Linked DNA regions of Homo sapiens. The protein of the gene in region 1 interacts with the protein of each later gene in a pairwise test. Each region holds a gene or a part of one and is shown on either strand. Other genes may lie near its edges. The genes, in order: TSPAN2 and DCBLD2.

The links.
Region 2: the proteins of TSPAN2 (region 1) and DCBLD2 interact in binary tests that used the Homo sapiens proteins (3 or more experiments, as listed by UniProt).

What each region holds. Positions count from the first base shown.
Region 1 is NC_000001.11:115,051,502-115,063,631, forward strand, and holds part of TSPAN2 (tetraspanin-2), read right to left. Parts: intron 10,732-12,130; coding exon 10,634-10,731; intron 9,038-10,633; coding exon 8,963-9,037; intron 7,481-8,962; coding exon 7,382-7,480; intron 6,108-7,381; coding exon 6,036-6,107; intron 1,962-6,035; coding exon 1,878-1,961; intron 1-1,877. UniProt on the Homo sapiens protein: May play a role in signalling in oligodendrocytes in the early stages of their terminal differentiation into myelin-forming glia and may also function in stabilizing the mature sheath.
Region 2 is NC_000003.12:98,897,074-98,910,080, forward strand, and holds the start of DCBLD2 (discoidin, CUB and LCCL domain-containing protein 2 precursor), read right to left. Parts: upstream 4,623-13,007; 5' UTR 4,254-4,622; coding exon 4,049-4,253; exon of another isoform or gene 1-4,048.

The DNA.
Region 1 (12,130 bases):
TGAATAGAAGAATGCCAAAGAGTCTTCTTGTCCGCTATTATTTCCCCTACAATTTTGTAGAGCCCATGGAACCCTATCTGTGGGCACCATTCCATAAACTACTGTCAATGCTTATTTTAAAAAATGGGTACTATAACTTTCTGGTTCTCTCCTCAATTCCATCCTAAGTCAGACTAGGATCTGTAAGTGCTAAATTCAATAAGATATGAATGATCAGTTGTTTTGAAAAGGGAGGGGCAGAAGCAGGTAAGGGCATGGCCAGGAACAGGATTTCAAGCTTCTGGATGACAGGACTCAGTACCAGTGTGTAGCACGGGCGACACCCAATGCACTTTTAGTTAGCTGATTACATTGTGCAACTCTCACTTTACAGAGAAAAGAACTAACGAAGAAACCTGGGGGTGCCGACTCAAGATAGGCTCACTATGGGCATTTCCCCTTTATCATTGCCATAAGGTTGGATGTAATCCCTACCCATCCTGGTTTCAGTGAGACTCCTTCAGTCTCAGCCTACTGCCGACACGAGTCAGGGGTGAATGCTTCTAGGCTGCTCATTTGCTGAGATTGTGAAACTCTCCATTATGCAGCACACGCTCAGACCTGCCTCAGGACTGTCCTTTGGGGAGCTGCAGAACTGCAGCCAGGCTATCCCCAGAGCAGGTGGGGAGGACCTGAGAAATGTCCCTTGATTTGGAGGGCCTCAGCAGAGTATTTCCAGCCACTTCTCCACCCCTCTGTGCTCTAAATACAGAAAAGGGGAAGGCGCTTGTGTGTCCCCTGATAACTGCAAATTCACTGATTTCCTCACAATTCCCACAGCCCTTGCCTTAGTTTAGGCCATGAATTAATCTACATAGAGGGCTAGAGACTAAGTGCCATCTTAGCATTAGCTATTATCATCCAACCCCTGGACAATGGAAATCATCCTTTAACCCGCCTTCCAAATCCAATCTTGCCTCCCTCCAACCTTTCCTCTATCCTCTACCACAGGTTCTTCCAACTCTTGGTGACTCCCCTTTCCTTAAGGGTGAAGCCCACCCTTTCAAAGGGGCATACAAAGATCTCAATGATGTAGATCGAATACTCTCTCCATTACCACCTCTCGCAACTCCTGCCATACCTGTCCGCTGCTATCCATTCTTCCCACACACTCTTCTTTTGTACTTTAGAAGTACAGAGCCACCTGGTGGTGGTCTGGATGCACTACGCTTAATACCATCTATGCCATTGCCTTTGCCTGGTAGATTATGCAGAGAGCTGGCATTTGTTGAGTGTTATATGTCCCAGACACTTTATTTATATTAATTTGTAATACTACTGTATATGTAGTATCCCATTTAATTTTCACGGCAATCCTATAAGGTTTATATATTAACAGACGAGGAAATTGAGGTATAGAAAAATTAAGAAATTTTCCTGCGATCTCAGAGCTTGCAAATGGTGGAGCCTAGAGTTAAATCCAAACCATGTGATGCCAGAGCTCGCCCTATTAATCTCTATGCTCTGCTGCCTCTTCAAATCGTAGGTGAGAGAGATTAACCTGATATGTTGCATTGAATTTGTAACAGTAGAAAGAGACCCAGAACTGAAAATCATTTATCTAGGTTATGGATAGTAGCCTTAAAACGGGAAGTTAATAACAATGACACACTCAAGGTCATAATGAGTTAAAGTTGAAATTTCTATTATATTTTAGAGGACAAACTATTAATATATTTATGAGCTTTGTTCTTAGAAGATGTAATACATTGTGAACAAAGGTCTTTTTTCTTTATGAGAATTCTCTCTTAAGATACTATCACACTTGAAAAGAAATAAGATGCAAAGTTTCAAGGCTTTTTAGAGGGCAAAAAGGGTAAGTTCTAGAACTTTCTCACCGTCAGACCTGCAATTCCAATACCGACAATTCCAATGAGCTGGAGCTTAACACTGATTATGGTCTCAATTTCATCGATGCAATTCTGTTTTGAGGAAAAAAAGTCGGGAATAAAAACTGATTGTATGTGTCAGTCATTATCCTGATCCTATCCTTTCCATCTCTACAGTTCATTCTGTGAGAGTTAATCCATGCCAGCTTCTACTCATGTTTCAACAATTCATCTTTGATAACATCATCCTAATAAGCTTAATGCAAAAATGCAGTTTGGGGAAAAAAATAGAAGCCTCTCCTTTGGGTGAGATTTTCATGTTTAGGCCAGTGGCTTCTTCGGAGCCCTGAAATATAACTGGAGGAAGCTATTTGTCTGGTTCCAAGGAATCTAAAAATTTGGAGCCACTTCTTACTTGTAGCAAATAAGTAAAATACCCTTAAAACAATAACTCTTTGTTTTCATATTGTCATTTACAGTTTAAAATACTTTCTATGTCTTTGACCCAATTTACTATGCAAAGTAGGCATGACCTATTAAGAAACTAAAAAGTCTTAACAGGTTCAAGTTAAACAAAGGAAAGCCAAGAATTAGAAAAGCCAAGTCTTGGAGCTAGAGGACCATTCTCTCCTGTGGTGGCTGGGCTGGGCTGTGCTGGGTGAGTTCCTATCCTTTCATCTGTGCCCATAAGACACCTGTGCAGCATAGATTCAAAGGGCCTTCATGGATGTGGGGAAACTTAGACAGAAAGCCAAATAGATCACCTGTAACTATTATTAGTTTCTCCAACTTCAAACACTCCTATTTGGAGTGCTCTTAAGTAGAGGGATGCTCTCAATCCAACTGTACCCTCAGGTTGTTCAGATCTGTTCACTTGTCACTGGTTGGTTCCTTTGATACCATCTGAGCTATATAAAACCCTTACTTCTCTCTTCGTATTTCCTATCACACTTCATTCATTCAACAAACATTTCTTGAGCATCTACCTTGCATTAGTCACTGGAAGAGGGGTGGTAGATGCAGAGACAATAGGATATGGTTTCTCCTGCTTTCTGGGAATTCACAGTTTAGAGGACACAGATCCACAAGAGATACCTATAATGCATTCTGACAAAAGTTTGAAAACTACTCTTCTAAGGAGTGGCTCCCTTACTTAGTGGAAAAAATGAGAGTCAACCTATAGCAATTCTTTCACTCTTCCTCTCCTTCTCCTATACACTTAGATGCTCCCTTCCTTCAGTGCCAGGCATTGCTGTAGGTAGCAAGCACACTCCTGACTCCTTTTTCTCTGATCAGAGCCAAAGAGGTGCCCTTCTCTGTTGAAAGTTAACCTCATGGCTGGGCGCGGTGGCTCAAGCCTGTAATCCCAGCACTTGGGAGGCCGAGATGCGTGGATCACCTAAGGTCAGGAGATCGAGACCAGCCTGGCCAACATGGTGAAACCCCGTCTCTACTGAAAATAAAAAAATTAGCCGGGCATGGTGGCACCTACCTGTAATCCCAGCTACTAGCGGGGCTGAGGCAGGAGGATCACTTGAACCTGGGAGGTGGAGGTTGCAGTGAGCCGAGATCATGCCACTACACTCCAGCCTGGGCAACAGAGTGAGACTCTGTCTCAAAATAAATAAATAAATAAATAATAATAAAAGACAGTTAACTTCATATCCTGCTTTGGGTCTTTCAGCTCCTCAGGAAGCCTGCACTGCCAGTTACTTTTTTTCCTTCCTATACATTCAGCCTCTCCTTATCCATTGACATTTCTACTTATCCTATCACCATGCTCAGTTCTTCAATCAAAACAAACAAAACAACACTCGAGACTGTCCTCCTCTAGTTCTGCCATTAGGCCCTCCTTCCCTTCATTGCCAGCTTCTTTTTGTAAAAAACAAATGTACAAAAGGTATATTGGCTTTAGTCACAAAAGGAATACATGCTTCTTGTAGAAATCTGGAAAAGAGATTTTTTTTTTTTTAAAAAGAAATGTCTGTATTCTCACCATAAAAGGTAATAAATTTGTTGGTGATACTTACACACACAAACACACCTACACCCTTAGGTCATTCTTTATATTCAACAGTGAGCTTTTTAAACTTAATATTACAACTTTAAAAATGCCTTGTTTCACTAAAAATTTCTTTGAAATCATGATTATGATGATTATTTTTTTTTTTGGAGACAGAGTCTCGCTCTCTCACCCAGGCTGTAGTGCAGTGGCGCGATCTCGGCTCACTGCAACCTCTGCCTCCCAGGTTCAAGTGATTCTCCTGCCTCAGCTTTCTGAGTAGCTGGGATCACAGGCACATGCCACCACGCCTGGCTAATTTTTGTATTTTTAGTAGACGGGATTTCACCATGTTGCCCAGGGTGGTCTTAAACTCCTGAGCTCAGGCAATCTGCCTGCCTCTGCCTCCCTAAGTGCTAGGATTACAGGTGAAATCATGATTCTTAATGGTGGTAAAACATTTCATCATATGAATATACTACAATTTATCCAAACAATCCCCTATTGCCACATATTAAGGGTCTGTCCAGTGTTTTGTTCTTATGAATAACATGTAATGAGCATGATTTGCACAAAAACGTCTGTCTGCATTTCTGATTCCTTTTCCTTAGAATAAACTCCGAGAAGTGGAATTTCTGGATAGAAGGGCATAAACATACTTAATCCTCTAGTCTTACATAGTCATACTGACCTTTAAAACTATTTACTAATTTCTCTGAAAATGCTCACGACATCACGTTTACCAAAACTGTGTATTATTGTTAAGGGAAAGGAAAAACACTTGGTCAATTTCATAGATTAAACAACAGCATCTCTTCATTTTAATTTGCTATTGATTTTAAATATTACTTTTAATTTTCTATATTTTCTATATGTTTAATGGTAATTTGGACTTTGACTTTTGTAAACTTTCTTTCTGTGTCCTTGGCTCAAATCGAAACTTCTTGAAAGGATGCTCTCTCTCCTCACATCTCGCTCTCTGAAACCTGGGCTCTGTCCTCAATCCATCCCTCACAGCACGTCACCAGTTGGTTCCTTGCATGCTAAATCCTGCCAGCTTTTCAGCAGTTATTAGTAGACCTTCTTAGGCTTTCAGTTCCCCACACAAACCATGTCATTTCTGCCTCTGTGTTGTTGCTTACGCTGGTCTCTCGGCACGCAGGCCTCCCCCTCCCGCTTTCTGCCCAATGCTTGCATAATTACTTTCCATTCTTGAAGATTTAGCTGAGACATCATTACCTCTGTCAGCCTTCCCCATCCCCCAGCCTCTCGCCTCTCCTAAGTGCGTTTCCCTCTGTGCTTTCCGAGCACGTTGCACATTCCATGCATTCCTAATCACTGGACCGTATGGACTTCATGTTCATCCCTCCTATCAGACTGCAATGCAAGCTCCTTGTGAGTAGGAACTTTTTCTCCTTCTCCTTTGCATCCACAGTGCCGAACATAAGGTAGGCAGCTGATCAATACTGAATTGCCCTCAACAGCAGCACCTGGGCCTGGTGACCATTCCCTCCCCTTCCCGTGCTGTCTCCTCACTTGTGTCTGGCCGCCCCTCCCAGTTTCCTTCTTTGGCATCTCTTCTTTTGCCCACCCTTAAATTGTCCCCCAAGGATCTATCCTCATCCTTCTTTTCTTCCAAGTCTAATGGATCAAATCCGTATTTATAGCTTTAAGTTTCCCATCAAGTGCTGACACTCAGACCTCTCTCCTGAGCCACAAACCAGATTTTCCAACTGCCTACTGGATATTTCCATTTGGAAGTGCCACTGGCTCCTCAAAATCACCATGTTAAACACAAAGCTCATTTTCTTTTCTCCACAATTGGCTCCTTTTCCTCTCTCCCTCAGCTCCATAAATGACACCATCATCTATGTAGGTGGTGAAGCCAAAAACCCAGTAATGGATTCTCCTCTCTTCTCTGGTCACCACTCCTGTAGTTGTCACTTTCTAAAGGGCCCTCTTTAACATCTCTTGCTAACAACAAGGACAGCAGCCTTCCCAATGGGTCTCTCAGCTCAACGCTATTCATTTTCCATCAATCCTCTATGCTGCCACTAGAGCAAATTCAGTAAAATGCAGATCCCATCCGAGATTCTACCTTCAATGGCTTCCTAAGCTAGCAGCATGATACTACAGGTAGAGTAAGAACCTTGGTAGAAGCTTACCTTGTGTCCTAGAAGCTCCTTTGGGCATGTAGGTTGGACCTGTTCGGAGCTTTCTTTTCCACAGCACTGAAACTAGAGAGTCAGAAAAGAGACTTCAGGACCAGGCGGGAGGAGTAGCAGCTACAAGTCTGGGCACCCTGCTAAGGACTGGGGTGCCGAGGCGGCAAAGCAGCTCCGAGGCCCAGTCACTGCAACCCAGACTGCTATTTCTGGAAGGAGAGTGAAGAATCACATAATCATGCTGGCAAAACAAGAAAATGACTTCGCTAAAGCCATCTGAGTTTATGATGGGAAGTGACTCAAGGCAACCCAAACAAGGCAAGAAGCTAATTGACAGTGTCTGTGTAAATTGCTACTTTTTAGAAAGGGGTTGGGGCTTTAGATTCCTTCTTTCAGACTGGGAGTCATTTAACCTGCTGAGGAGCTCAAGTTTTATGAGCTGCAGAAGGACTCATTAGCTGGGAATAGTCTGGGGAAGAGGGGAGAAGTGGCTGCAGGAAATTCCAGGGTCCAAAAGACCAGATTTGAAGATTGGCCAGCAAACAGGTGTCCTGCTTAGGCTAGCTGGCCCTTTAAGACAAAAGAACCTGTGTGCTGCTTCAGGTCCTGGCGGCAGCTGAGGTGAAACCGTATAAATGTATAAATGGTGGCCACTTTCCAAGACATACTTGTCCTAGACAAGAACTAGGTACCTGAAAACACCTGGCCCAGGAATTCACAGCTACTTCTTCATATCACAGTGTCTAAAAAATCAGAATAACTCTGGCCTGGCCCATCTCCTCTGTAAGCCTTCTGTGATTAACTGCATGTAGCTCTGAGCACTCCACGGACAGCACAGTCCCACTGAATGTTCCAGAAGGGAGTGTAGCCATCTCCTGTGACCCTTCATTCTACAAATGAGGGAGCTGCGTGGGTATCAGGGAGGCCAAGTAACTTGCTCAAGGTCACAAGGCTGTTGAATGGTAGAGCTGCAGCTAGAAATTAGCTTTTCTGACTTACAGGTCACACTTGTTTCTGTTACACCACAATGCTACCCTCTGACAAAGCCTGCTATTTATCTGGGCTCCTTTCTCTGTAACCTTGTTTGTGCTCTTTTGTCTCTTTGGGGCATGTGTCTTTTGGGTTCATGCTCTTCTGTCTCTCTTGTGAACTCTGTGTGATAGACATCTTTCCCTTCTAGGGTTCCACACATAATGCAAACTGTGGCCCTCAAAAGGGCTAAAATAGGTGGTGCTACTTGGCTTTACTGAATTTATTTTTATTTTTAATCCTGGTGATTGGTGAGAACCTGGCTCACACATAATCTTTAGAAGCTGTGATTTTAAGGAAGAAGTGAAGTTACTCACTGTTGAGTGGAAGGTGATGAGTGTCCCATTGCCTTTTCCCCTGTCTTTAAGGTAATCATTGTAAGCCTCTTCATACATGGTCTGAACATGTCGGATAGCCTGAAGAAATACAAGGAAAAATGAAGGACTTCTGGGTGGGAAGTTTCAAACATTCTCCTTTCATCAAGGAAAATCTCCTCTTCCACACCTTTGAAAAACACTGCCTTTCTCATAAGAATGATACAATGGACTTTGGGGACTCAGGGGAAAGGGTAGGAGTGAGGTGAGGGATAAAAGACTGCACATTGGGTACAGTGTACACTGCTCGGGTGATGGGTGCACCAAAATCTCAGAAATCCCCACTAGAGAACTTACTCATGTAACCAAACACCACCTGTTCCCCACAAAACCTGTAGAAATAAAAAAAAATACTGCCTTTCCATAGGTATTTTAGGATAATTCAGCAACATATGGAGAAGATTATAGTTTCTGGAGTTTCTAAGATGCTTTTGAGGATGGAAGGACAGACTAACCAGAACAGTTTTCATGGACTAGAAAGATTTCTGACAGTTCCCAAGCCCAACTGGGCTTCAGCATCAACTGGGCCCCAGATTCCTGGGCTCCATCCAGATGATTTGGATGCATAGCTAGGATCCGGACTTATACATTCCTGTTACCCCATTGGTTAAAAGCATTCAAATCTTTTTATGACGTGGTTTAAAAGGTATTCATCACCAAGGAAAACTTTCTACATTCAGATATCATATAAAGCTTAGAGAATGCTTTTTCTAGTATAAAAGCTTGTGATTTCAAATCCACAGATATCTCAACAGGTCCTAAGATTCCATTCTACTTCTGTATGTAGCTGAATTTAAACTAACCTATGAACACAGCCAGTTACTTTAGAAAAATTCAAAAGGAGGTGACATTTACTATTCTACATGTTTACTGTTTTATAGTCTAAAATAAGTTCAGAAACATAATATTAATGACACAAGAGTTAATGTGAAATACACCAAACTTAAGTTTCCATTCTTCCTCCTTTTCCATTCCATTCTCTTCTATCCCACAGTGTGTTTTACAGAGGAAGAAAGGCTACTTCCTCTGTGTGTCCCCCCGATAACCTATTCTGGACACCTAGAGTTGGGCAGCAAATATAAACTGGCTTCACTAGCCCACAGCAGTGTAGGCTCTGCTCTTTGAGAATGAAATGGACCCATCCAGGCCAATCCTTAAGGACAAATGGCAGTCTGACAGGGGATGAGAATCTAGATTCTTTCTCAAGTCTGTACTCTAACTGTTACCCCATTTCACAATGGGGAAGAATCTTAAATTAGAGATCCTTTTTTTTTTGGTTTTATTATAGACCACTTCATAAGTCTAATGGAAGAGATGAACTATCTCCCCAGAAAAATGTGAGCATGTATATATGCCTGCACACTCATATACATATATGCTCAGTTCTGCACACCACTTCTAAGTTAAAAAGTTCTGTTTAAACTATAATAATGGGGATTATTTGGTTTCTTAACACTATTGTGGGTATCAATATTCTAACACTTTTAACCATCATAGAAAAACATTATAAGTAATTTTACTTACTACCCCCTTGCCTATAAAAGCAAATACTCCAGTGGTTACTTCAGCAGCAAATATCACCAGGAGGCAGGTAAAAAACTGTAGAGGAGAGAAAATACTAATTTCATTAATTTAATACCTTTTCAATTTATATATTTTGCACCTTAGTTTCCTTATGTAATGGCTGAATCGCTTTCATGTGGTTCATTCATTCATTCATTCATTCAGCAATTGTTTATTAGGCATTTATTCTGCACCAGGTACTGTCCTTGGTGCTGACTATTCAGTGGTGAACAAGATAATATCCAAATGTCTCTGTTATCACGGACCTTGGATTGGACAGAGGAATATACGATAACTGTGTAAAGAAGTTAAAAAGTGAATAAGATAAGTTCAGGTAGTGATGTAAAAATCCCACCACCTAGAACACCACCTGGCACCTACGTGCTTAGTAAATACTTGACGAACACAAAAGACCTAGAAAGATATAAAATAAGGTCAGGAGAGGGAGCATCACTGATGCGGCCTGGGCATGGGGAAGGGGGTGACTGGAGATTCTGTGGTCTGGAAAGGCTTCTTTGAGGAGATGAGGTGAGGGGTGTCCTTCTGGATGGATTTCTGTTCTGGTCTATGGATTTGCTCTGATCAAACTAAGTTCAGTGATAAACAAGACAGAAATGTGCTCAACAGTAGGAGAAAGAGAAGGAATGAATGGCAAAGAAATAAGTCAGACATTTCACATAGCAAGAGATCAGAGGCTACGGCCAGAGTTAAAAATCCAAATATCACAATAAGTAATGAGAGATGAGAGGCTGCCTATTAAAACTGCTGTTTCTGACTCCCTGTGGAGAAATATCAACACTTTCTCTCCTCCTGCCCCTCTTCTTCCTTTCTGTTTCTCTCAGGCTACACTGACATAGAATGTATAGCAGTTAATTGAAATTATTTGATTTTTGTTTTAAACAGAGGTTGCTTGTTAAAATAAGCCACAAGAGGGATTTTGGTTAAGTTATTGATCTCAAACATAAATGTTTTCCTTGTAGATAACAGCACTTCCCTGGCTATAGAAACCTTTTAGCTGCCTCACCCACTGTGAAATATTTTTTTTTAAAGAACAATCATAGTCACCCCTTACAATTACTAAGTACTTTTACTCCCAAAACATCTTTACACCAATGACGTCATTTCTTTTCACACTTCCCATATAAGGCAGGAACAAAGATAATATTTTTTTTCTTTTTTCTTTTTTCAAGACAAGGTTTTGCTCTGTCGCCCAGGTTGGAGTGCAGTGGTACAGTCATGGCTCACTGCAGCCTCCCAACTCCTGGTCTTAAGTGATCCTCCTGCCTCAGCCTCCTGAGTAGCTGGGACCACAGGTGTGTGCCATCACACCCGGTAGAGACTAGGTCTCCCTGTGTTGCCCAAGCTAGTCTTAAACTCCTGGGCTCCAGAGATCCTCCTGCCTCAGCCTCCCAAAGTGCTGGGATTACAGGCGTGAGTCATGGCACCCGGCCCTAGTTAGTATTATTCATATATAAGAGATGGAGAAACCAAGACTGAGGGAGGAAAAGTGCATGCCAAGGGCTCAGAGAGTCCACGGAGGAGCTGGAGCCAGGGGCCAGAGGCACTGACTCCCTTCAGATGCAGGCCGCTCCCTCACCCCCACCCCACCATTTACCCCCTCGCCCCACTTACTGATCCAAGCACACATTGCGACTCCCGCATGGCTCCGCAGCACCCGAAGAACCCCACGGCCATCATCAGGGCCCCGGCTCCAACCAGAACATACAGCCCTGTGGGGAAGAGGTCAGAGGAGACCACTGAGAGCCAACCGAGTGCCTCCACGACCAACTAGGCTTAAGACTCTGGGCACTGCAGAGCATTCTAATAGTACCAAAAGGAGGTGCTATTCTTACTGCCATGTTTGACACGGAGGAACTGGGCCCCAAAAGGTAAAGCGATTTGCTTAAGGTCATAGAGCTGGTGTTTGGCAGAGCCGGGAGAAAAATAGCCATGAGCCTCAAAAGCCTGCCCAACACTCCGACTCTGTCTTGCATCTCTAGTGATGGAGGCAGCCATCATTCAGGTGGGGATTTCACTTACTGCTTAGGCAAGCCCCACGTACAGTTCTTACAGAGAAAGAAAAGGACAGAAATGCTCTGGTTCTGAGAGAACTAAAGCCAAGCCTTTTTGTATTTCCTTCTCTGATCCTGAGATAAGTTAGAATACAATATGGGACTTGGCACTTGTCTTACTTGGAATCATGTTAATGGTCTCTATTTCATTTTTTGCATTTTACTCATATGAGTCACCTGGAAACCACTCCCATTAATAGGGAGGGTGGGGGCTGGTGCCCCGCCTCTGTGGGGAACCCCTGGGCCTGGCATTCAGGGTGCTTCCTGGGGCGCCTCTGGGTTGCTGATGGTGGTTTGCGGGCAGATCTGGCAGTTTACAGACCTAGTAGGAGCCACAGGCGAGGCTGCTCTGCTTCCTGCCCCACCCGGACCTGGCCTCAGCGTTCTTTTCAGGGCCCTGAGGCCTTGCTGCTCTGCAGTCCTGAGGTGGGTATTTATTTCCTGCTGTTCTAGCTCTACCACCTCCTCCCTTTCCCTTTTCTCTAAAAGAATAATTTCATGAGGGAATGGATGTGGTAATGTGAGAAATGATATCATATTAAAAATAATAGTGTTGTTGGCCCCACTACCTCAACACTTTATTGTTTTAAAAATGTCTTTCACCAAAGGTCTAATATCCAGAATCTGTAAGGAACTTAAACAAATCAACAAGCAAAAGGCAAATAACTCCATTAAAAAGTGGGCAAAAGACATAAACAGACAATTCTCCAAAGAAGACATGCAAGCGAGCAACAAACATGAAATAATGCTCGTCATCTCTAATCATCAGAGAAATGCAAATCAAAACCACAATGAGATACCATCTCATACCAGTCAGAATGGCTTTTGTTAAAAAGTCAAAAATAACAGATGTTGGCAAGGCTGGGAGTAAAGGGGACACTTTATACAATGTTGCGAATGTAAATCAGTACAGCCACTGCAGAAGGCAGTTTGGAGATGACTCAAACAACTGAGTTGAACTACCACTCGACCCGGCAATCCCATTGCTGGGTAAATACCTAAAGGAAAATAAGTCATTCTGTCAAAAGGGTACATGTTCACTGCAGCACTATTCACA
Region 2 (13,007 bases), on another chromosome or scaffold:
TTGTCATTTTAATTCTACTACTGGTATTTTACTTATGCCAATTCCACCATTTTAAGATATTTTTACATGTTTGTCTTTAAAATGAGGCTCAGATGTTCAAATGGAATTATCAACTATCCCCAGGGAAAATAATATGTTCTTTTTGTTTCTAACACTGAGAAATCTACCTATAATTTACCTGCAATCTTAGAATCAATTTTTCATTTACAAGTTTCAAAAATGTGCTGTTTCAATCTGATCATTCACACGTGTGGATTGTGTGCTGCTTCTAATTTTCATTTTGTAAAATTAATTAGAAATATAGCAGAAAAGGATGCTTTGATTTATTTGCTTCTGAACAAAACTGGATAAGAGCCCCAATGTTTTATCAGACAAAGAAAAGACAATGGAAATTTCTAAATTAACCTAATGTCAATGTGAAAAATAATTACAAATGTTTATTTGCAGAGAGAAATAAGTTTTTATTTTCTGGCAACTCACAAATATTGTTCAAAAATATTTCCCTGCATCACAAGCAAATAAAGGCATTCCTTGACAGAATATAAACTTTTTCACATATTGGTTCCAAATATGTTCAAATAACTGAAACATCCTTTTTAAGAATGAACCTGATTTGTTTCACAGATTAAATTAGCAAAGAAAAACTAATATCTTCACAACATGTTATATATTAATAGGCCCAAACAAATCAGGCTTAATGGTTTTTAAGAATTAATTCCCTGATATTTTACCATGTTCAAATTACATTCTAACCAAGAAAGTAGGCAAGCCTTCCAGGATACAAATGAGGAAGCTGAGCTCCTGATATGAAGTAACCCAAATTCCTACAGTCATAATGGAAACCAGAGACCTAAAATCATAGTAAACCATCAACTTCCAATAAATTTAATACAATAGCAAATATGCTACCAGCATAAGTTTCACCAATTTAATTTTTTTGAGAGGTACATTTTACAGAAAAAAAGTCTTCAATAAAAAAGATTTCGAAGACCAACTTCTTGATATCCAACTTAGAACTCTACACAAATACAAGCCATATGTGAAACATCAACATAATAAATAGAGGTAAACAGAATATATTTATAAATTTATAAGTGAAACAGAACTGGTTAAAATACATCTGTTGTGAAAAGTCGGTAAGTTTTCAAACTAATGATACATTTTATTCGGAGCCAAATAAAAAGAAAGGTCATTGTGAACAGAAAATCTATTGAGGAATAGCTATGTATGACATTAATTGGAATGAAGGTAATATATTCTGCTATTTCAAAATGATGTCAGAAAGAAAAAAGACACTGAAGCACATTTCTACCTCTCCATACTAGATGCATTTCTACCTTCAGTTGTCAAATAAAGAAAAAAAATCTATCAAAGAAACCTTTTTTGCAGTTTAATTTTTATTCTGACTATATGCGAATTACAGAAAATTTAGAAAAGTATAAAGAAATGTCCCACAATTTTACCACCAAAAGACAACAACTGTCAACAGTTTATTTCCTTCCAGTCTTAAGACTTCTTATAGAGTAAAAACTCTACCTTGTAGCTGAACATTACAACATGTACAAATCCCATTAAAAATTCTAAAGGTGTTTTAAACAGACTTCTTTTCAGGTTATGTGAGGGAATATCAGTAGACCCTAAAGAACATCTGTTAGACTGGGAAGACTGGCTTAAAAGGAATTCCACCACGGGCTGCTTTAGGGTCCTTTGAGTAAAAAATTTAATTTTTAAAAATGAGAAAATTCAAATCTCAAATAATTGTGAGTTTTCAGATGATGTATACCTAATTAGCTCTTAATTTATCAACTTAGTAAGATCGAGATTAGTAATAATCATTTATAGCTATTTTAAGCTTTTCCCTTTGCAAAATTCCTGCATACTATCATTTCATTTATATTAAGCTATGAGATAGGTATGCATGCTCACCTTAATGATGTAGAAAACTGAGGTACAAAGAGATTAAATATTAAATGATTTAGCAAAATTTACCCAAGCAATTTAGAAGAACTAAAAAAAAAAAAAGTCTTTTAATTATCAGAATCATTTCTATTTATGTTGATGTTTACATAAGATGACACTGTTAAAGAGAAATGTATTTGTTAAAATGTTCTGGTAAAAAAAAATTATATTAAACCTTAAAAAATGAAGTAATGTTGCTTGTCTGATTAGACTGGCTATTTCTTTTTCTTTTTTTTTTTTTTTTTTTGAGACAGTCTCGCTCTGTCGCCAGGCTGGAGTGCAGTGGCGCGATCGCTGCAACCTCCGCCTCCCGGGTTCAAGCGATTCCCCTGCCTCAGCCTCCTGAGTACCTGGGACTACAGGCATGTGCCACCATGCCCGGCTAATTTTTTGTATTTTAGGAGAGACGGGGTTTCACCATGTTGGTCAGGATGGTCTCGATCTCCTGACCTCGTGATCTGCCCGCCTCAGCCTCCCAAAGTGCTCGGATTACAGGTGTGAGCCACCGCGCCCGGTAGACTGGCCTTTTCTAAAAACAAGGCAATCCCTCATTTGGAAGGTAGACATGTAACTGATTCTATACTGTTCCAAGATTTTTTTTAATAACATGATACAAACACTATCAGATCCAGAAACAAGCAAAGCAGAGTACTCTGCCTATGGAGTAATATGCCCTCCTGCATCAAGGTACCTTATATTCTTTGTGTCTCAATGTCCTTACGTTTGAACTGGGATAACAATAACTATCTCAGCTGATTGTAGTGAAGATTCAAGGAGTTAATAAACCCAAACCACTTAGTCCAGTTGTTCCAGCCACAAAGTAAGCCCTAAGTGTTAGCCATATATAAGCCTGTTTTCCCCCCTACCAGGAGGGAAATACATCTCTACAGTGGAAAGAAGGATTTCACACTTTAATATATTAAATGATGATGATGTTCAGTAATTTTAGAAGACGATCTAACTAAAACCTAAATGCTAAGCATCTAAATTTTGAGTTACTCTATATAGAAACGTGTCTAGATGTAAGGGGTCAGTTTGCCAAATACATTTTTTCCTTATAGTTACAGAGATTATATTTCCACATGCCTGTCAAGGTTCGGCATCTTCTTAATGACAGGCCATGATTCCATACTTCACTGAAAACCATGAGAGCAACATAAAGCTGGGCTTAAAGGCAGAGAACAATTTTCTTTTTAAAAAACTCTCTTCCTAGCAATAAGTAACAATCCAATCCTTATCCTTCCCACTGCAATAAAATGGAAAATGCAATGGAAATATCTTTTCAAAAACTGATGCCAAACTGATTCAAAAAGTGTGGTACACTACGGGAAAACAGTACTAAAGGGGAAAAGAAATCACCCTGCATTCTCCTTCCATTATGATAAGTATTTAATAAACAGTTTTGCCTGTTTCTGGAACAGGTTTTTCAAGGATTGTAGGTGGAAAAAAAAAAAAGTTTTGTCACTTTCTGGAAAGGCTTACCTTTTTAATGTGGAGAGCTTCACTTGGGCAAATTAGCATAGCGTTGGGTCAGACCCAGTGTTTGACCAAGGCAGTCTAGACCACCAGCCTCAATGATGGATTGTAAAGAACATGTTCTGAATCCAAGACTCAGAGATAAGCAGAAACTATTCCATTCGCTTCAGAACCCGGGCTCTTTCACAAAGGATCATAATTACCACCACTTACCTTTAATAGGCTTAAGATGCTATTTAATTAACCTGCCTTCCTACAGTGTCCATCCATCCGTGCAGCTTAACTTTAGGGGTCATTACCTCCAAAGGTTCTTTTTCCTCCCCAAAATTTTCCCCAGAAGGACCTAATATCAACGAGGCTTTCATAGCAGGGTCTCACGTCCCCCTTTCAGAAAAATAAATGGCCTTGCCAAAAAGTAAAGCCGCGCCAACTTGGGGGACAGACGGGCAAGACCTTGCCTTTGCAACTCAACCCCGTGAGTACCCAGCCAGGTCCGGCCACGCACGAAAGCGCACCGCGCCTCCCTGCAGCGTCTGCAGATTTGTTCAGGGGCCAAGAGACCCGCAGCCCCGACGGAGGTTCCCCCGCCGCTCACTCCCCTGGGACCACTCACCTTGCTGGGCTCCAGCGTCCTCGAGCAGCAGGAGCAGGACAAGTAAGAGCAGGAGGAACAGAGGCATGGAGAAGGAGGAGGAGTTGGAGCAGGGAGGGAGGGAGCGGGAGAGGGGGAGCGCGGCCCAGGCGGGGGCGGCGGCCGCGGCCCGGACTTGGGGACACTGCGGGCAGCGCCTGGCTCTCACCACCGCCCGGCTCGCCATCGCGGCGGCCGGCAGTCTGCCTGCATAGTGCGGGTGCCTCGGCAGCCCCGCGCGCCTCTGGCCGCGGCACCCGACCAGGAGACGGCGGCAGCGGCGGGAGAACAAGAGGCAGCCCTCGCCTCACCCCGCGCCGGGACCCTTCCGCCCCTCACCCCGCTTTCACCTACTCCTCCTTCGTCCCTTCCCTCCGCTCCCCGCGCCGAGACCCCAGGCCGGAGCGCAGGGGAGGGGAGGGAAGGAAGCGGAGTCCTCGAGCCGCGGAGGACGGCCGCGGCGGAGCTAAGGAACGTGCCTCCCGCGCCGCGCTCCTCACCAGGGTCGCCGCTCGCCGCGCTCACCCGCGGCTCCGGCTAGCTGGCAGGCAGGCCCGCAGCCAGCTCCCTCGCGCTCCCTCTCGCGCGCGCCGGCCACGCCCCCTAGGCACCGCGGCCAATCCTCGGCCAGCTCTGGTCCGTCTCCTTCCGCGAAACCCAATCAGCATGCTCGCTCCTCGCTCGACCCGCTAGTTCTCCGGCCCATTCCTCGAGCTCCACCGCCCCTTACCTCCCTCTTCCAATCCCCTTCGGCCTTTGGAGGCGTCCCACCCGCCTCCTCCAATCCAGGTCCCGCCCTCCAGCTTCGGATCCCCGCGGCCCCCGCCCGGCCCGGGCGCCTGTTATTGTTGGGCCCTCAGCCCAAACTGATCCCGCAGAGGCGGCAGCCAGCTCGTCAGTGACTTCCGGGACGTCCCCCATCCCGCGCTCCCTGCTCCTCAGGCCCAGCTTGCTCCTTGCTCCTTTCTCCTCGCTCCTCCGACGCACATCAGACCACTGGAAGGGGGTGGGAAACCTGGATCCTGGGTTGTTTTAGCTGGGAGCTGAGTCTAAGGGACTTTTTTTTTTTTTTTAATGGCAGAGCGTGGCTTGTTTTGTTAAAACTGCCGCCAGTTGTTGCAACAGCTCCGAGTTAGAATAATAGATGCAGTGTTCAGTTTTTAATATATGTGTTCCCTGTTTTCTCTGCTCTTTTTATGGCGGGGGGTGGGGGACAAAAAAGTGTAAAACAAGATCCGTGCCGCAAAGGCAATTTAAACCTAACATCCCAACCTTCATGCAGCCATTCTACAAGGAGTTGTTGAGCACCTGCTGTCTATCTACAGAAATCTTGAAATGTGGAACAGAGATGGAAATATAGCATGCAAGTCAGAATGAAGTAAGTGCTAATTAGAGTCACAAGCAGTTTGATGGAGACTGTAAGCCTATGGAACGACAAAAAGAATTTTAGGAAAGAGGAATGCAGAGGTCTACGCAGTGATTTATTTTAGAAGAGAGTGGCCATGTAGGATGTTTTTAACAGCAGTCCCTGAAAGGACAATGGTGTCATTAGCAAATACAAAAAACTGCTAAGGTGGAACAAGTTGTGTGGGAAAGTAAGTTAATTTTGGACGTATTGAATTTGAGATGCCAACTTAGATAATAAGTGAAGCTATGTAACAGGCAGATGGATATTTTAGTCGAAAGCTCAGATTGAGAGCTTTGAAATTATGGCTCTGGGAGTCATACATAGCCATACATGTATACATATACATATGTATACATAGTCATACATAGATGTGATATTCAAAAACATGGAAGGGACTGATATCCTTCAATGAAAGTCTAAGTTGGAAAGGACTTTGGAGGTCGTATGTTTCAACTCCCCTGCATATTTCTTATACAATAATCTCTTTAACCAAATTTATTCAATTAACATTTATTAAATGCCTAAGAAACCCTATTATGCTCTAAGCCATTGTGGGCATTGGGCATAAAAAGTTTACTGAGAAGAACTTACATTCTGGAGGAGGAGGTGACATGTAAACAAACCTATTGTTATTAGTGCCCTGTTAGAGGTGTGGACTGGTGCCACAATACCACAGTGAACGGAGTTCAAAAAAACCCGTCAGTTTGAAATGCCAGTGTCTTGAATAAGAAACTAAAGTGAAAAAGGTGATCTCAGGCCAGAGGCAAAATAGGCTGGGTCACAGGCTCAATAGGGAATGGTGTTGATGGAGCTGGATTGACTACTGCTGACGTAATGGGAGGAACTGGAGACTAGTCTGGAAAAGTTAGGAGGGGCAAGATGTAAGGCAAGCTAAGAGTCAAGATTTTATTTTGTATCACTGGAAAATAACTAAAGGGTTCTAAGAAAGAATGACATTGTCAGTTTTTTTTTTGTTTTTGTTTTTGTTTTTGTTTTTTTTGAGATGGAGTTTTGCTCTTGTTGCCCAGGCTGGAGTGCAATGGCATGATCTCGGCTCACTGCAACCTCTGCCTCCCGGGTTCAAGCGATTCTCCTGCCTCAGTCTCCCTAGTAGCTGGGATTACAGGCATGTGCCACCGCACCCGGCTAATTTTGTATTTTTAGTAGAGCCGGGGTTTCTCCATTGTTGGTCAGGCTGGTCTCGAACTCCCGACCTCAGGTGATCCACCCGCCTCAGCCTCCCAAAGTGCTGGGATAACGGCGTGAGCCATCGCGCCCGGTCATTATCAGGTTTTTATTGTAAAAACCCCAATCAGCCAGTAGGGTGAGGAATACATTGGTGTAAGAGCAAGACTGGAAGCCAGGGAGAGCCAGTCTGCAGTTAAAGGGAGTGATGGTGAGTTTTTAGTGCATTAAAAGTGGGCTTGGGAAGGCGGGACCAACTAGGGGAATATTTTTAAACTTGGTGACTGATTATGTGGAGTGTAAGGAGTTGAGGAAGTCTCCAGGTTTCTGGTAGAAGGTGATGTCTTTCCCACAGTAAGGAGTACAAGAAGGAGAATTGGTTTGGTTGGATAAAGAAGTAGAAGTTAAAAATCATAAATTCAGAATTGAACCTATCAGACATGATGTGCTAATGTGGCAAGCAGTCAGTCATGAAATAAGATTTCTAGTAGTAGTGCCTGAGACAACCTATTTCATGTGGAATCACTCCTTTCATAGGACCATTGAAAGAGAAGCTTGAGGTCACAGATGTGGTGGCAGAGCAAGGTAGTGTGAATCTTAGCCTGGCATTCTATTGACTACATAGAACTGTGGCAGAGGCAGAGAATTCACCTAAGAACTAGCACAGTTATGGAGCATTTCTGGAAGAGGCAAAATTTGGTCTCTAGCAACCCCTACCCCTTTAATATAGCAGGAAAAGATCCCGACTACATACGTGTAAAGCAAGAGGAAGGAGCACTTACATTTCTCATCACTGTTTTACTTACTGTCTAGTGTTTTAAAGTTGTTAAAAGTAGAGACTAGAGAGGTGAAGAGGTTCTGAATTAGGTCACTGGCAGGGAAAAAGAGAGGGAGGTGGGAGCAAGTTGGAGTTATATTTAAAGCAGCAAAATCAGAAGGTCTTAGTGACTGATGCCATTTGACTATTTCTGTGTTATTTTATGCCTCAGCTTCCGGAGTTTCGCTTTGGAAGACAGGGTCTGGAAGTCTGGCTAGAGAACATTTGTGGTGCCCCCTATTGCTTTATGTATATAGAAAATTACAAATATAGCACAGATGTGGGAGAGGATTGATGCTGTTGCACCCATATTCTCTCTTCTGATTATTGTCTCTCTACTTAGTTGCCAAACAATGACAGAAGGCTGCTCTGAAATGATCAAAATTTTCTCCTGGGACCTCACACCAAAGGAATATAATAGGCATTCATTTCTAAGACAATGCGGGTAAAGTGGAATTCTAGTTTATATTACCTTTCTTATTCTCTGCATGCTGCTCTAGACAACTTTGTCATGATCCTTGCTTCTGGGGACTTGGTTTGTTTGGGGAATGACATCTTATGAGGCAGTGGGAGCAATACTTGTCCAGGACCATTTTACCCATGCAACCCAGATGCATAACCCAGGGGCAGAACTGGGGATTCTAATCAAGTCTCAAAGTGGATAGGTTTGGAGAGGGCCATCATTGTAGCACATAGAGGCTCCAAGAAGCTACAGTTCCTCCACAAGGCAAGCCCAGGTTCTGGCTTCTTTTTACAGGGTTTCAAAAGTGTGTATTATTTTATTGTATTTCTGGTTGTTTACTCTACATTAAGATATTTAAAAATAAAAATAGATTCTCAACCTAAATTTTAATTTTTTATCTCTCTTCCTCTTTTTCTCATTCTTTATTTCATGTTTCTTAATCAGTAAAGAATGGAAGAATAGGCCGGGCGCGGTAGCTTACACCTGTAATCCCAGCACTTTGGGAGGCCGAAGCGGGCGGATCACGAGGTCAGGAGATCGAGACCATCCTGGCTAACACAGTGAAACCCTGTCTCTACTAAAAATACAAAAAATTAGCCGGGCATGGTGGCGGGCGCCTGTAGTCCCAGCTACTCGGGAGGCTGAGGCAGGAGAATGGCGTGAACTCGTGAGGCGGAGCTTGCAGTGAGCCGAGATTGCTCCACTGCACTCCAGCCTGGGTGACAGAGCAAGACTCCCTCTCAAAAAAAAAAAAAAAAAAAAAGACCGGGTGCAGTGGCTCATGCCTGTAATCCCAGCACTTTGGGAGGCTGAGGCGGGCAGATCACGAGGTCAGGAGATCGAGACTATCCTGGCTAACACCGTGAAACCCCGTCTCTACTTAAAATACAAAAAATTAGCCGGGTGTGGTGGTGGCGGGTGCCTGTAGTCCCAGCTACTCGGGAGGCCGAGGCAGGAGAATGGCATGAACCCAGGAGGTGGAGCTTGCAGTGAGCCGAGATGCACCACTGCACTCCAGCCTGGGTGACAGAGTGAAACTCCGTCTCATTAAAAAAAAAAAAAAATGGAAGAATGAAGAAAATCAAATTAATCTATAGGGAAAAGGGGAAATATAAAAAGAATAGTTACATTTTACTATTCCTACTTTCAAATGAATCCAAGCTCAGCCAACTGCTAAGGAAATTAGAATGTAGGAAAAGAACCTGGGGGCTGGTGCCTTTGTTTCTGTCTGTGCAGAAACATCTGGGTTTCAATGAAATGGTACCGTAAGAATCATTTGGCACCCATCATTGCTATTAAATGTCTGTTAGCATTAATGAAACAAAAGAGGCTCATTAAAAATGGCATTTATACTGGAAACCTTAGGAGGATGGTATGTAATGAATCATTGGTGAGCTTTATCAGTGACTGTGTATTTTTGGCAGGATAACAGAAAGAGGGAATGAACAAGAATGTACTTTTGTGATCTTCCAGTGGGGTAGGAGAGAAAGAAGATTGTGGCAGTTCTGGGGAAATACTTCAAACATCAAAGACCAGAGCCTTAAGATCTGGTTACTGTTCTCACAGGAGCATTTTCTTTGTCCTGTTGACTGTTTGGGAAAATGTTTACAGCCAACTTTGCTGCTAAATGTCTGAATTCCGCTGAAGACACTTTCTTTCTGTGAACAGAAGTGTTTTGGACACATTTTTCTCTTTATCTTGTATGCTTTTTTCAGTTACTTATTTCAGTCAACTCTCCTAAGTTTATTACTCATATTTTCTTAACACTTATAAACTTTTTAAAAGATATTTGTTATAGCAAATTTAAGGCAAAAGTGCCAGAAATCTAATTTATTATAGAAGGTATTTAATTTCTGCCAGTGGATGATAATGTTAAATATTTCTCTTAAAAGATTAACATTTGTATATATCAGCAACATGACTAACTTTTAGCATTTTCCATTTGCATCTTCATCTACTGCAACCATCTTACTCTCTTTCTCTCTCTCCATCTCTTGCCCCAGTCTCTCTCACACTCTTGGTTTTTCTAGGAACTTTAGGAAATTAACCAATTCATTTTCTTATGGGTCATGACAAGAAGAAGGCTTCAGTCTAGTATTTTATCTCTGATGGAGATTTCAAAGGATTTTAGTAAAAGCATGTGAAAACTGCCTTCCATAACATTATTATCATGCCTAGAAATTAGGAAATTAATTATACATGGATGGTTAACATAGCAGTAAAATGTGAATAGTGACCATGCTAGTATATCTGAGATAATATGATTTAGGTAACCTGCAGGCCTCCCCTGCTATATGCCTGTATCCTTTCCTGTGGGACTTTTGCTGGCAACGCAGTTGAGAATTAGATGTACAGAGTTGAAATGCTCTTTGGATTCTGAGAAATTAAGTTTTGTGAGATAATGGAAACAGCCCTAGATAAGACTCTTGTATACAATTTCTGCTTGAAAGTGCTATATAACCTCCAGCAAGGCTCCTAATCTCTCTAGACCTCAGTTTCCTTGCCCATAACAGAAAATGATGGGATCCTATTCTAAATCTGAAGTTTGATAATACTTCCAAATTTTCTTTATTCACATCTCCCTTTCACCTCACGTCAAATTCTAAGTCTTCAGTTCCCAGATTTCTACCTAATGAGGAGGGAAAAGAACCAAACGCTGATAACTACAGAATTGGTCTCTGGGAAATAATTGTCTTTGCTGAACACCAGTGCACCTTAAAGGGTGTGTTTGATTTGGAAAATAATCCTCAGGTCCCCCAACTGCATCCCAGCAATGTCTTAATGAATGGAGGCTATATGAATAGCCCCAGTTTTATTCTGTGAAAGAAGCGAACAGAACCTTGGACAGGCAGGGTAACCTTTTCAGAGAGGAGATGGGGCCAGGTCAGAGGAAATAAAGCTGGTTAGCAACTTGGCAGGAAGCTGGAGCTTCAGAGATGTAAGAAATATAATTTCCCACTCATTTCAATGCAAAGATGCTTTAAAAATAGGGATATCTAATAAATAATTTCAAGGTGTTTGCTATATATGCTATACTGTAATCTTCCCCTTGCCTTCCTCCCAAACTCTTCATTAAGTTTACTACAATCACAGCCTTGATTGGGGGAGACTTTGGGCACTGTGAGTGGAGGACATGCCTATTTCCACATAAACAAGGGCAGCATCAGCAGGTGGTGAAATGAAAGCATGGATCAAGGATTCAGAGGAAGCAGAAGACTACTATAACTAGAGATTTTGAGAAACTTAAATCTTCACGCCACTCCCCACTCTCTTGACAAGAAACTAGGTTCCCATCCCTATATAAGTCAGGATGTTTGAACCATAGCAAGCTAGAGGATTTGGAATCGTCCAGGCAAGTGACATCTTTCACACTAGGATAAGCAAATAATAATATAATAATTCAAATTTTTATTTTCTAAGAACGAAGAGAATAGAATTGAAATTGGGTGCTCACTTCGGTGGCACATATACTAAAATTGGAACAATACAGAGATGATTAGCATGGCCCCTGCACAAGGATGGCACGCAAATTTGTAAGCATTCCATATTTTTCAAGTCTGCAAAATAACCAGCTACCATCATGATGACAAGATCAAATCCACACATAAAAACACCAACCATAAATGTAAATGGGCTAAATGCCCCAATTAAAAGACACAGAATGGCAAGCTGGATAAAGAACCAAGACCCATCGGTATGTTGTCTTCAAGAGATCCATCTCAGATGCAAAGATACACATAGGCTCAAAATAAAAGGATGGAGGAAAATTTACCAAGCAAATGGAAAACAGAAAAAAGCAGGGGTTGCAATCCTAGTTTCTGACAAAATAGACTTTAAACCAACAAAGATTAAAAAAAAAGACAAAGACATTACATAATGGTAAAGTGTTCAATTCAGCAAGAAGAGCTAACTATCCTGAGTATATATGTACCCAATACAGGAGCACCCAGAATCACAAAGCAAGTTCTTAGAGACCTTCAAAGAGACTTAGACTCCCACACAATAATAGTGGGAGATTTTAACACCCCACTGACAATAGTAGACAGATGATTCAGATAGAAAATTAACAAAGATATTCAGGACCTGAATTCAGTTCTGGGTCAAGTGGACCTGACAGATATCTGCAGAACTCTCCACCTAAAAACAACAGAATATGTATTCTTCTCATTGCCACATGGCACTTACTCTAAAGTTGACCACATCATCAGAAGTAAAACACTCCTCAGCAAATGCAAAAGAACTGAAATCATAAACAGTCTCTCAAACCACCATGCAATCAAATTGGAACTCAAGATTAAGAAATTCACTCAAAACCACACAACTACATGGAAATTGAACAACCTGCTCCTGAATGATTCTTGGGTAAATAATGAAATTAAGGCAGAAAACAAGAAGTTCTTTGAAACTAATGAGAATGAAGAAACAATGAACCAGAATCTCTGGGATACAGTGAAAGCAATGTTAAGAGGAAAATTTACAGCACTAAATGCCCACATCAAAAAGCTAGAAAGATGTCAAGTTAACAAGCTAACATTACAACTGAAGGAACTAGAGAACCAAGAGCAAACAAATCCCAAAGCTAGCAGAAGACAAGAAATAAGCAAGATCAGAACTGAAATGAAGGAGTTAGAGACACAAAAAACACATTAAAAAAAATAAAATCCAGGAGGTGTTTTTGTGAAAAAATTAACAAAATAGATAGACTGCTAGCAAGACTAAGGAAGAAAAGAGAGAAGATTGAAACACAATCGGAAGTGATGAGGGCTATCACCAATGGCCCCACAGAAATACAAACAACCATCAGAGAATACTATCAACACCTCTATACACATAAACTAGAAAATCTAGAAGAAACTGATGAACTTCTGAACACATACCCCCAATCCCATAACTGAACCAGGAAGAATTCAAATCCCTGAATAGACCAATAATGAGTCCTGAAATTGAGGCAGTAATAAATAGCTTACTAACCAAAAAAAGTCCAGAACCAGATGGATTCACTTCATAGGCACGAAGAATTGGTACCATTTGTACTGAAACTATTCCAAAGAATTGAAAAGGAGGGACT